Linked DNA regions of Homo sapiens: region 1 is linked to region 2. The links come from fine-mapping of genetic effects on gene expression. Tissue or cell type: whole blood. Region 2 holds a variant in brackets; the other region holds the start of a gene. All regions are shown on one strand. Distances are from middle to middle.

Region 1 (5,985 bases), 43 kb before region 2:
GAGGAGGGGGGAAGGGGAGCAGGGGGGAAGGGGAGCAGGGGGGAAGGGGAGCAGGGGGGAAGGGGAGCAGGGGGGAAGGGGAGCAGGGGGGAAGGAAGAGAACACAGTATGAAGGACTGTTAGTAAACCCCAAATGTCCCCTCCTCCAAATGAAGCAACCTGAAAAGAAATAAAAATTGCAACATGCTGTTTTCAGGACTGGCTATTCTGGCTTCCCTAGGACTAGCAGTGCTTCTACTCCTTTGACGGTGAAGACATTAAGCTCCCCCTTTATTTTTGATGGTTTAAACCAGTTAGCCTCAACCAGCTACGGCAGGTGAGTTTTTTAAAAGCACCAGGGCTACGACCAGAGGCCATCATTCCAACTGCAAGACAATTTTAAAACCGACCCACCACAAACGGACCCAAAACCAAAGAATGGAGACCCGCCCTATACGCCGGCCGAGAGAGGAGAGTGGGCGCGCCCCCCCCACCCAAGCCGACGATCTATTCTCGGCAAAGGCAATGCAAGAGCAGACTCCATATTCTGCACCGCCTCTCCCCCCACGCTGACACGGCTCTGCTGGGATTTCCTGCACCCCTTACCTCCCCCCGGAAAGGGGCACGGTCCAAAAGGACCAAAACGCGGAGGAGGGAGAGGGAGGACTCGCGGAGCGCCGGTCGGCAGTCACATGCCGCTCCCCGCGCGGGGAGGCACCACGTTGTCCCGGCTGCAGAGGAATGCTGGGAAGGGGGGACGCGCACACACCCGCGCCGCGCACACGCACACTCGGGCCGCGCCGCGGGCCCGCACCCTCCTGCCACCCCCAGCGCCGCGGCCCGCACCGAACGCCGAGGCCGAGCGGCCCGCGGGCCGCCGGCGCGGCGCATGGCGCCCAACTGTCACCCGCCCGCCCAGGCCGGCCACTCCCTCCCCCGCCGCCACACGCCCCTCAAGTCGCCGCAGGCCCCTCACCCGCCTCACATTTTCCGCCAACCTCCTAACTGGCTCCCCCAGCACACTCGCCATCGGGCTCCTTCTTAAGGCGGAAGGTGCCCGGGATCGGGGAGGGAAACCACCGAATTCGATGACACGATGGGTTTCTTCTCCCCACAACTGACCCCTCAACCCGTCTCCAAATGGCGATTCTAAAGCCCAATTTCATCTCCCCGAGAACAAAACTTGTTAACTTTTAATCCCCGCATCCGTGCGGCCAGCATGTACTCCGCGCCGGGCACTGGGTTGCCCGTGACATATGCTCATTAAACATTTACAACATGGGGACGCTCGCAACGCTACCAAAACGGGGAGCGCCGGGCGGGGTGGGAAGAGGGGCTTCCAGAGGAAGGTTCAAACCAGAAACCGTCTCTTACACCAGCATGCGGTGGGGATCGTTTCACTGAAACCAGCGCCCACCCTCTGCCGACGAGGTAGGCCCGAACCACACCGTTGCCCACTAACCGCTGCGGCCCAGGCGGTGGCCGTAGCCTCCCGGAGGCCGGGCCCTCGGGCAGGGGCAGGTCCCTGAGTGTACGGTGGGGGGGAGGGCGCGGCGACCAGGATCAACCAGGAGGCAATTTTAAAAAGTCCCGAGTCACCATGACCGGTAGCAGACCCCGGGGCCCTGGAGGTGCTGGGGGAGGGGACTCCCATGTCCCCGGAAGAGGCCCCCGGACCCAGGAGGGCAAGGAGGGAGACCCACCTGGGGGGGACTGTCCGTTCACGGTGGTCAGGACCGGCGGCAATGCGTTCTTAGTCCACGGGTTCACCTTGGGCGGGGGGGCTTCCACGAAGTCCCGGCGCCCCGCGCCCGCGGCTCCGGCAGCTCCTCCGCCAGCGCCTGGCTCGCCGCCGCCCTCCTCCCCGTCGCTGATGGCCGGGCCTTCGGCGCCGGGCAGCTGCAGCGGCCGCGGGCTCTCGCGCTCCTGCTGCCCGGTGCCCTCCTTGTGCGGCTTGGCGCAGGGCGGCCGGGGTCTCCGAGCGCTGCCGTCCGGCTCCCCCCCGCGGACGTCGTTTGGCCCGGGCTCGCCCTTGCCCTCGGGCGCCGGCGGCGGCTTCTTCCTCACCAGCCCCCCGTGCTCTTCGGCCTGCAAGAGCGTGGCGCCCCCAGGCAGCAGCGGCTCCACCTGAGTGGCCATCTGCGCGCCCGCCCCCCCGGAGAAGCCGGGCGCGCCCGAGGCTGCCTCCCCCGCCTCGAACTTGGCTAGCAGAGCGCCCGCGACGCCTTCCTCCGGGGCGCTGGGCCCCAGTCCCTGCAGAGAAGGGTCGGGGTTCACGCGAGGTGCGGCCCCCTCCCAGTTAGATGCAGCCGCCGTAAATCCGAGGCCCACTAGCGGGGCGGGGGGGGAGGAAGGCCCCCCACTCTGCAGTCCAGGCCTCCTAGGCGTGCGTCCCCCCCCGCCCGTTCCTCGCAAGACGCCCCCACCCCGAGCCCGGCAGGCTTCTAGTCCCGTCCCTCCCTCCCCCCCGCCCCCGGGGCGGCCCGGGCTTCCCGGCTCGGGGGCTGCAGCAATATGGACGGACGGGGGAGAGGCGCGGCGAGCCAAGCAGACCACGCGATCCGCGGCAGGCGGCGGGCGGGCGCGCGCCTCACGACGCGGCGGGCGAGGGGAGGGGACGGCGCAGCGGGGGCGCGCCGCTGGCCGGGCCCTGGGCGACGGGCGGGCAGGAGGCGGCGGGACGGCGCGCGCACGGCTACGCGGTCCTGCCCCTCGCCCCGCCCCTCGTCTCCGATTCCTCAGAGCACCTCCCGGGCTGGGGGTAGGGACGCTCAGACCGGACGGGGGCGAGCACGTGCCTGATGCAATTCGGGAGTTGTCGGTGGGGGCGCTGACGGGGATAGGAGAGAAGGCTGGGCGAGGAGGGGAGGTATCTTAAAGGGCCAGCGCGTGAGAGCGGCCTCAGGTGGAGCACATGGGACCCGGCCACGCGGCCTGCCGGGCCTGCTCGTGCTCTTTAGGCTGGGTGTCAGATTCAGGGGAAGGAGCCATTAGTGTCATTCCTGACTTCTAGGAGGCCGAAGGGAGGACCCTCATCCGCCCCGAGGACGCGCCAACGCCGCCCCCTCCCCTGTGCCCGGCGGGCCTGGCCCCTTCGGTCCCCGCCCGGGTGACCTTGGTTGGGTGAGCCGTCCGCACCTCAGTGGGTTGTGCTCCGCGCCTCGCCGCCGCTGGGCCTGGCCTCGACACTACCCGGAGATGGGTTCAACTCCGGGCCTGGAAAGCGAGTCTTTAGCCCTTGCGGGCAGCCGGCGCCTAGGAAGTGGGAACGGAATTACTAAAGCCCTCACCCAGGCCAGGCCCTTCTCCCCGCCGCGAAACCTTGTATTTATGGGCAGGAAATGTCTTTTCTTTCAAGTGGATGTCGTTTTTTTTCTAAAGAATTGCTTTGGGCGGAGTTGAACCGTCCCTGGATTGGGACTTCTGAGATCTGAGATTTTATCCTGGCCCTGCCCCCTTACCATCTCTGCAGCAGTGACTTCCAGCTTCGTGGGCCTCAGTTTCTCTATTGTAAAATGAAGGAGCAGTGTATGACAGCAGTTTCAAACTTCAGTGTACATTCGATTCAATACTTACTGACCTCGTACTGTGGGGGCCTTGCAGGGTTCTAGGAAACGGGTTTGGTATAAACTAGGCTAACAAAGTCCCTATCCTCATGGAATTTATTCTAAGGTGGGGAAAGAGACAATAAACAAGTAATAAATTATTGTCTAGTATCTATGAAGACAATAGTTAAACTGTGGTAATCAGTTAGACTAGATGGGCTACTTTTGTTTGGGTGATAAGGGAAGACTTCTTTGAACGCAGATGCCAAAGTATTAGGAATCAGGCTCGGTCTGGGACTGGACCCAGAAATCTGCGTGTCTAGCAAGATCCCTTTGGTGCTTATGACTTCACTTGGAGAAGTCCTGGCTTCTGACTGGCTGTGATCCCACGTGCTCACATAACATAACAGCCTGGAATGTTGGCCATCTCCAAAACAAGAATTAGAGCACACGACCTGCTGGATCTAGGAGAAGACTGAATGAAAAGCCTCTTGGAACTGCCCCAGCCAGCAAAGCTGAGCTGTAGGATTGTTGTAACCAGTATGGGGGAGAAGTACTGGTAGGGATAGCCAGGTAATGCCATGTCTACTTCCAACTCTTGGGTTATTCAGCCTCCAAGCCTTGGCCAGCTAGCCGCACTTCCCTGGACCCCTCTCCTGGTGGAAAAATGGGGGTAAATAATGCCTGACTTGCTTCCACCCTCTGAGCTCATGTGAAGGTCAAGTGAGACAATGTTAGTCAAGGTGCTGTGTAAATTTTATAGACAAGCCAGTACGTCAAAAGAGCTACCAAGGAAGGTAATGTTACTCAATGAATTAAACCAGGAATCTACTAAGTTCATTACATGTACTCTTAATCAGAAGGTAAATTATTGCACATTGCCACTGAAATGCACTATTTATTTATTTGAAGAGATGAGGTCTGTCACCCAGGCTGGAGTGCAGTCATTGTGATCATGGCTCACTGCAGCTTCAAACTCCTGGGCTCAAGCCATCCTCCTACCTCAGCCTTCGAAGTAGCTAGGACCACTGGCACGTGCCACCATGCACAGCTTTATTTTTACAAATTTATTGATAAGTAATCCCTGAAGAGATTATTCACTCTAGACCCTCTCTAAACTTTGTTAATAGGGGACATAATTATTATTGTTAGTTGTTCTTTTTGTAATTGGAGGTAGAGAAGTACCCTCCCCTGACCCCTGAGAACTCGTGAGGGTACGAGGGCACTGTGTGGACAAGAAACTCGTTCATGCTACTCAGCAGTCAGAAACAGGGTTGAACAAGCATGGCCAGGCCCTGCTGTGTAGAGGGTGGAGGGGTACTGAGATCTGCCTACCCTGGGCCTGCTCTGCCCCAGAGAGAGACAAACTAGGGCCAGAGAAAGTAAGAGACCTGTGTGAAACAACATCTTTTTTTTTTTGACTCTTACTCTGTCGCCCAGGCTGGAGTGCAGTGGTGGGATCTCAGCTCACTGCAACCTCCGCCTCCCGGGTTCAAGCAATTCTTCTGCCTCAGCCTCCTGAGTAGCTGGAATTACAGGCGCCCGCCACCATGCCCAGCTAATTTTTGTATTTTTAGTAGTGATGGGGTTTCACCATAATGGCCAGGCTAGTCTCAAACTCCTGACCTCAGGTGATCTGCCCACCTCAGCTTCCCAAAGTGCTGGGATTACAAGTGTTAGCCACCATGCCCGGCCGAGACAACATCTTAGGCTTAGAAGCTGTTAGAACTGGAAAAAGGAATCATAATGATTACTCATTCTCCTTGTTTTGCAGATGAAGAAACCAAAGTTCAGAAAAGTGAAGTCCAAGGCCGGGCACAGTGGCTCAAACCTGTAATCCCGGCACTTTGGGAGGCTGAGGCAGGCAGATCACCTGAGGTCATGAGTTCAAGACCAGCCTGGCCAACATGGCGAAACACTGTCTGTACTAAAAATACAAAAATTAGCTGGGCATGGTGGCGCACACCTGTAATCCAAGCTACTCAGGAGGCTGAGGCATGAAAATTGCTTGAACCCAGGTGGCGGAGGTTGCAGTAAGCCGAGATCACCCCACTGCACTCCATCCTAGGTGACAGAGCAAAACTCCATCTCAAAAAAAGAAAAGAAAAGAAAAAGGAAGAAAAAGAAAAGTAAAGTTCCTTATCCAAAGTCACACAGCAGAGCCAGACAGAGCTAGGTCTCATACCTGAATCTCTTTATCCTAAATCCAGTAGTTTTTTCTACATTAAAATAATGAAACTGGGGCTGGGCATAGTGACTCACACCTGTAATCCTAACACTTTGAAAGGCCAAAGCAGGAGGATCACTTGAACCTAGGAGTTAGAGATCAGCCTGGACAACACAGTGAGACCCTGTCTCTATTTTTTTTAAGTTTTAATAAAAAAATGATGGAATTGGGATTTGAATTCAGGTTTTTTTGATTCCTAACCAACTATGGTATTTTATATGCATATATTTCTAA
Region 2 (5,985 bases):
ACCATAGGCTCTACCCCGAGAGAGGGTGCTGCCACAACCCTTGAAACCAACATTCTCTGAGATTTATTTACTCAGCAGGGAGCTGCAGGAAAGGAGAGAACAGGGTGGCTGAAGCTCAAGTGACTGCACAGAAGGGGCTTTGAAAAGAAAAGTGACTTACACCCAGGGTCATCAGTAGGTCTTACAGTATATATTTGAGCCCAAGATCCTCTACTCCAACATGCCTGTTCTAACCATTGTATTATCCTGCTGCTTCCAATGGGGCCACATTCCAGGACTGGGTTCCCATCCCACGAGTCGTTAGAAAATACCATGACTCAGTGAGCTATTTCCCCTTTCTTTTTGTTTATATGATTGTACATTTCAAAAAGTCCCAGTAAATGGTATTTTTTTAAAGTAAAAGGATTTAAACAAGCAGCCACGATTCCATCATAATCAGTAATTCTTTTATCACATTAATTATTATCACACAGTGATTGGAGAAAATAATTACTACAGAGGCCGCATTTTACAAAACATTCATTACCTTACCTCATCAATCCCAAAATGTATTTTTAAATCTGAATTTATCTTAAAATCTGTGGAATCTAAGCTTCCATGGAACAGACTTTGTTTGGTCATAAGAACAATCCTGGTAGGCAAGCATTGCCCAGATTACAATCCCCATTTTGCAGCTGGGAAAACTGAGTTCAAAGAGGTAAACAATTTGCCTGAGGTCACAGAGCTAGTCAGTGCAGAACCAGAACTGCAGGCCTAGCTCCTGATTTTCAGCACAAGCGGTATCTACCATATATTCCTGGCCTCCAGGCCCTGTGTTCATACCTACCTGTTCCCATCACTCTCCTGGCCACACCCTAACAGAGGGCTGAGGGAGACCTCAGCTCCCCCAACCAGGCTTCCCTAGCCTCAGCCAGCTAGAGGTGGGGTAAACTCACTGTGGGGACTCCTGGGAGCAGTCTCTCCACATAGGAAATTTTTAAGTCCAAAGCTTTCACTTTCAAGAATGAACCCTGTGTGTGAGGCAGCACTGCAGAGACCAAAGCTCAGCTTGGGCGTGAAGGCAGGATTTTGCTGGTGTCCTTATAAACCCCATGCAAACTAGATCTAGGAGTTCCCCACCTGGGGACCCCATTCCCTGGAAATTACTCACAAATGCTCTATTTCTCATATTTCAAAAGGTCAAATGAAAATCAAATATCGACTCTAGATAAGATCTCACAGACAGAATAAAATACTACACTGCTTTTGGCTAAACCTGCATCAATTTAGTGGTTTGTGTCTGCTAACCAAAAAACACTGATTGGCTATTACAGGGCCACAATTCACATAGAAGAGGAAAACCAATTAACAAATTATTATGTAACAGGTGCAGCTGACAGACTTAAATCTTTCAGAACAAGGGGTGTGACAAGGGAAAACAATAGAAGAGGAAAGCTGAGAGTGGAATTTGAGCTCCTCATTTTCCCAGATGGGGAATGTGAGGTTCAGAGAGCTGGAGTGACTCGCTCAGGGTCACACAGCAGGGCTGGAACCAGCACCCAAGGTTTCTGCCCCTAGGGAGAAGGATCTTCCTACCACACCCTGCTGTCCTGAGGTTCAAGAAACGCAGAGTGCTAGGACTCACCAGGGTTGCTGAAGGGGGCCAGGACAGGGAATGGCAATGGCTTCTCCCTGTCACCTGTGGGCTCCTTCCTCGGGGCAGCTGCCAAGGCCACGCTGTTTTTCCTCCCTGGGAGTCTGCCAGGGCAGCTAGGTATGGGAGCCTCTTGGAAATCCAGCTCTGGGTGAGGGAAAGGAGGCCTCTTTGACAAAAGCACCCTCCAAAGCATGGAGTGACCAGGGCCTGGGGTCACTATGTGGCCCTGGAGGGTTTAGGTACATCCAGATCGCACAGCTGCCTCCTGGCTCTGGCCCGGGAGCTCTCCAGGTTGCCAGGCTAGTTTTCCTTCCAGACGCTGGGTGCCTTTAAGAGAGCGACGGCAGCTCATTGGCCGAGCAAGGCTACCCCACCTCTTTACCTTAGCGGGGAGCACAGCTAGGCTAGAGGCAGAGAGACTCAGGTGAGTAAACAAATGGTGGCAACCCGCTGAGTCTCCCCTCCTCCACAGCCCTGGTCCTGGGCTTCCTTCCTCACCTCCACTCTCCACCCTGGAAAACAAGCTGGGGCTAAAGGAAGAGCAAAACACTCTGCAAAGTGCTTAGTGCGGTTCAGACTACATGATCTCACAGTGACCCTGGGGCAGAGTTATTAGTACATCTTCTCTTTTCAGTGGAACAACTGAGTCCTTGGAGGGGTGAAGTGGCTTGTCCAGTTCACACAGCCCTTGCAAGGAAGGTCGACAGAGAGGGATGGTGTGAGGATCCAAACCCGAGTCTCCTGCTTTTGACTTCCCATACGGTTCTGTTGGACCACACCACTTTCCTGTTTGCAAAGCCTTTGGCAAGTCACTCACTGCCTCAGTTTCCACATCTGTAGCATGGTATAGTCATGCTAGTGATCCTCTACTCACTATAATGAGTATATAATCTTGGGTTTAAAGCTGAAAGAGACTTTGGAGATTATATAGCTCATCCAGTCATTTATCAGGCATTCATTATTCAAAAGGCATTATTATTCAGCAGCTATTATG[T/C]GTCAGGCTCTGTTTTAGTTCCTAGGGACATATCAATGAACAAGAAAGTCAAGAACCTTACTTTTATTGAGTTTACATTCTGGAGAGAGGGGATCTAGATATAAACAAGCCAATTAGATAAGTAATAGTTCCACAAAAATGAAATAGGTTGATATGATAAAGTAATGGAGGATGGATATTTTCAATGATGTGGTCAGGAGGCCCTCCCTAGGGAGGTGATATTAAAGCTGAGACATGAATGATGACAAGGAACGAGACATTGGAAGAGCTGGAGCAAGAGTGTTCAATGCACAGAGAACCAACCCCAAGTATAAGGTCCCCGAAGCAGGTACGTTTGGAGAACAGAAAGAAAGCTGCTGTCACTACAATATAGTCCAATCCCTGTACCCCCTCTTAATAGATAAGGAATTTTATCTATTCCTTATTTATTCCTGGAAGGTAATTCAAGAATTCAGAAAGATGATTCAACTTGCCCAAGATTCCCTCTTGTAAATTCCTCCTTCCTTTCTTTATCCTCATGTAGAAGACAAGGAAACTGAAGCTTTGGGGTGACCAGCATACTTGGGTTACCAACCCAACAATCATTCTGGTAGCCTACACTGCTATAATCTCATGCTTCTTCCACTCTGTAGACATATGTAAACTCCCAGACAGCAGGAACTATGATTTTAAGAGTGTACCACACTACCGGGTGCGGTGGCTCACGCCTGTAATCCCAACACTTTGGGAGGCTGAGGTGGGCGGATCACGAGGTCAGGAGTTCAAGAACAGCCTGACCAACATAGTGAAACCCCGTCTCTACTAAAAATACAAAAATAAGCCAGGTGTGGTGGCGCATGCCTGTAATCCCAGCTACTCAGGAGGCTGAGGCAGGAGAATCGCTTGAACCCGGGAGCTGGAGGTTGCAGTGAGCCAAGATCACACCACTGCACTCCAACCCAGGCGACAGAGTGAGACTCCATCTTAAAAAAAAAAAAAAAAAAGTACCACACTGAAGAACAAAATCCTGACACTGACGGAATATGTAGTAGTCTTCAAAATTCCAGCAGTAATGCAAACGGCCACACTGTCACATGGGGTCAGCACAGACCCTTCCTGTGGGGTTCCTTTCCACTTTCATTTTCAGAATTTTTTACTCTGATTTTTAAAAAGGGCTGCCTGTTTTCAGTCTCACATTGTTAGTAGTAGCTTTGGTATTATTCTGAGACTGTTGGATATACAGTATGTAATAAAGCAAGTGAGTTTGTTGGTATTGCTGAGAACCAGGACTTTTGGTGTGGGAGAAAAATACAAGTGAAAGACGAAAGGGGTTAAGTAAAAAATGCATAATCCTGTGTTTGTATTAGAGGTTTCAGTATGATTTTTTTTTTTTTTTTTTTTTTGAGATGGAGTCTCACTCTGTCGCCCAGGCTGGAGTGCTGTGCCGCGATCTTGGCTCACTGCAACTTCCACCTCCTGAGTTCAAGCGATTCTCCTGCCTCAGCCTCCTGAGTAGCTGGGATTATAGGTGCACGCCACCATGCCCGGCTAATTTTTTGAATTTTTAGTAGAGACAGGGTTTCACCATGTCGGTCAGGCTGGTCTCGAACTCCTGACCTCATGATCTGCCCACATTGGCCTCCCAAAGTGCTGGGATTACAGGTGTGAGCCACCGTGTCTGGCCTAAATTTTTTTTTTAACAGATAGGGTCTCACTATATTGACCAAGCTGGTTTTCAACTCCTGGGCTTAATCAATCCTCCCACCTCGGCCTTCCAAAGTACTGGGATTACAGGCATAAGCCACTGTGCCTGGCCTCTCAGTATGAATTTTTTATTTAGCCGATCTGAAAACAAATAAACTAAGTGAATTCCCTAGCTCTGTTTACTGTTTTCAGGTCTAGAAACAATGACCAATCCTTTAGTGCAGAGGTCCCCAACTCGCAGGCCATGGACTGGTACCAGTCTGTGGCCTGTTAGAAACTGGGCCCCACAGCAGGAGGTGAGCGGCGGGCAGCCACCAAAGCCTTGTCTGTATTTACAGCGGCTCCCCATCACTTGCATTACCCCCTGAGCTCCACCTCCTGTCAGATCAACGGCAGCATTAGATTCTCATAGAAGCCTGAACCCTATTGTGAACTGCATATGGCAGGGATCTAGGTTGTGCACTCCTTATGAGAACCTAATGCCTGATGATCTGGGGTAGAATTGAGGTGACGATGCTAGCACTGGGGAGCGGCTGCAAATACAGATTAACATTAGCAGAGAGGTTTGATTGCACAGAGACCATAATAAATCAGTTGCTTGCAGACTCATATCAAAACCCTATCAGTGAGTAGCAAGTGACAATTAAGCTGCATCTGGTGGCAGGCTTTAGGTCAGCATCTGACACTTATTTTAGTCCATACGTGGCCCGCTCATTATTTTATTTACTGCTTCCATCTGCGCCTCTTTCCCACACTGCACACTCGCCTTGGTCACAGTTTTGGTGAGCCCACAAGCTAACTCTAGCCAAAATGAGTAAAAAAAAAAAAAAAAAAAAAAAAAAATCTCACTGGAGAGCTTCTTTGAAAAGCCGGAAAGAACCAATGATGACAGAGCAGAAGACTCAGACTGCCACAAAAAGAAAGCTGCACTTAAAAGAAAATACCAAGAGTCCTACTTAAATTATGGGTTCATTGCAACACGTGATTCACATTCTCCAAGCCTGCTTTGTATAATATGTGGCGACTGGCTATCCAATGAAGCCATGAAACCTTCAAAACTGCTTCACCACATGGAGGCCAAGCACCCTGCATCAAAAGACAAGCTTTTGGAGTTTTCAAAAGAAAAGAATGTGAACATGAAGAGCAGAAGCAATTATTGAAGGCCACCACTTCATCAAATGTGTCTGCACTGAGAGCATCATTCTTAGTGGCTAACTGCATTGCTAAAGCTAAGAAGCCTTTACTATTGGTGAAGAGTTGATTCTGCCTGCTGCTAAGGACATTTGTCATGAACTTTTGGGAGAGGCTGCAGTTCAAAAGGTGACACGTGTTCCTCTTTTGGCTAGCACCACAACTGGACAAATTGATGAACTGGCAGAGGATATTGAGACACAATTGTTACAGAGGATTAATGAGTCACCGTGGTACGCAATCCAGGTTGACGAGTCTACCAATGTTGACAACAAGGCAACAATGCTTGTTTTATCCATAGAGAAATGCTGAAATGTCACCTGAACTTAACAACATTGTAGGCCAGGCGCAGTGGTTCACACCTGTAATCACAGCACTTTGGGAGGCTGAGGTGGGTGGATCTCCAGAGGTCGGAAGTTCGAGACCAGCCTGGCCAACATGGGGAAGCCCCGTCTCTATTAAAAATACAAAATTAGCTGGG

The links. PIP is the estimated chance that this variant, and not a neighbour inherited with it, causes the effect.
Region 1: it holds the start of LARP1, and the variant in region 2 is fine-mapped to the expression of LARP1 in whole blood (INTERVAL, PIP 0.99).

What each region holds. Positions count from the first base shown.
Region 1 is chr5:154,751,891-154,757,875 of GRCh38, reverse strand. It overlaps LARP1 (La ribonucleoprotein 1, translational regulator), which reads right to left and starts at 2,499. Exons shown (of 19, transcript NM_033551.3): 1 at 1,683-2,499. The coding sequence starts at 2,118. It overlaps LOC112267936 (a long non-coding RNA gene), which reads left to right and starts at 2,856. Exons shown (of 2, transcript XR_002956231.2): 1 at 2,856-4,097; 2 at 5,299-5,985. RefSeq lists an enhancer at 442-501 and silencers at 1,422-1,531, 1,812-1,891, 1,932-2,341, 2,382-2,721, 2,972-3,121.
Region 2 is chr5:154,708,770-154,714,754 of GRCh38, reverse strand. It overlaps a transcript of LARP1 not described here. Among named protein-coding and RNA genes, the nearest start is that of MIR1303, 26 kb to the right of the region's middle. RefSeq lists an enhancer at 1,821-2,367. The variant T/C (reference allele first, on the strand shown) is at 2,631.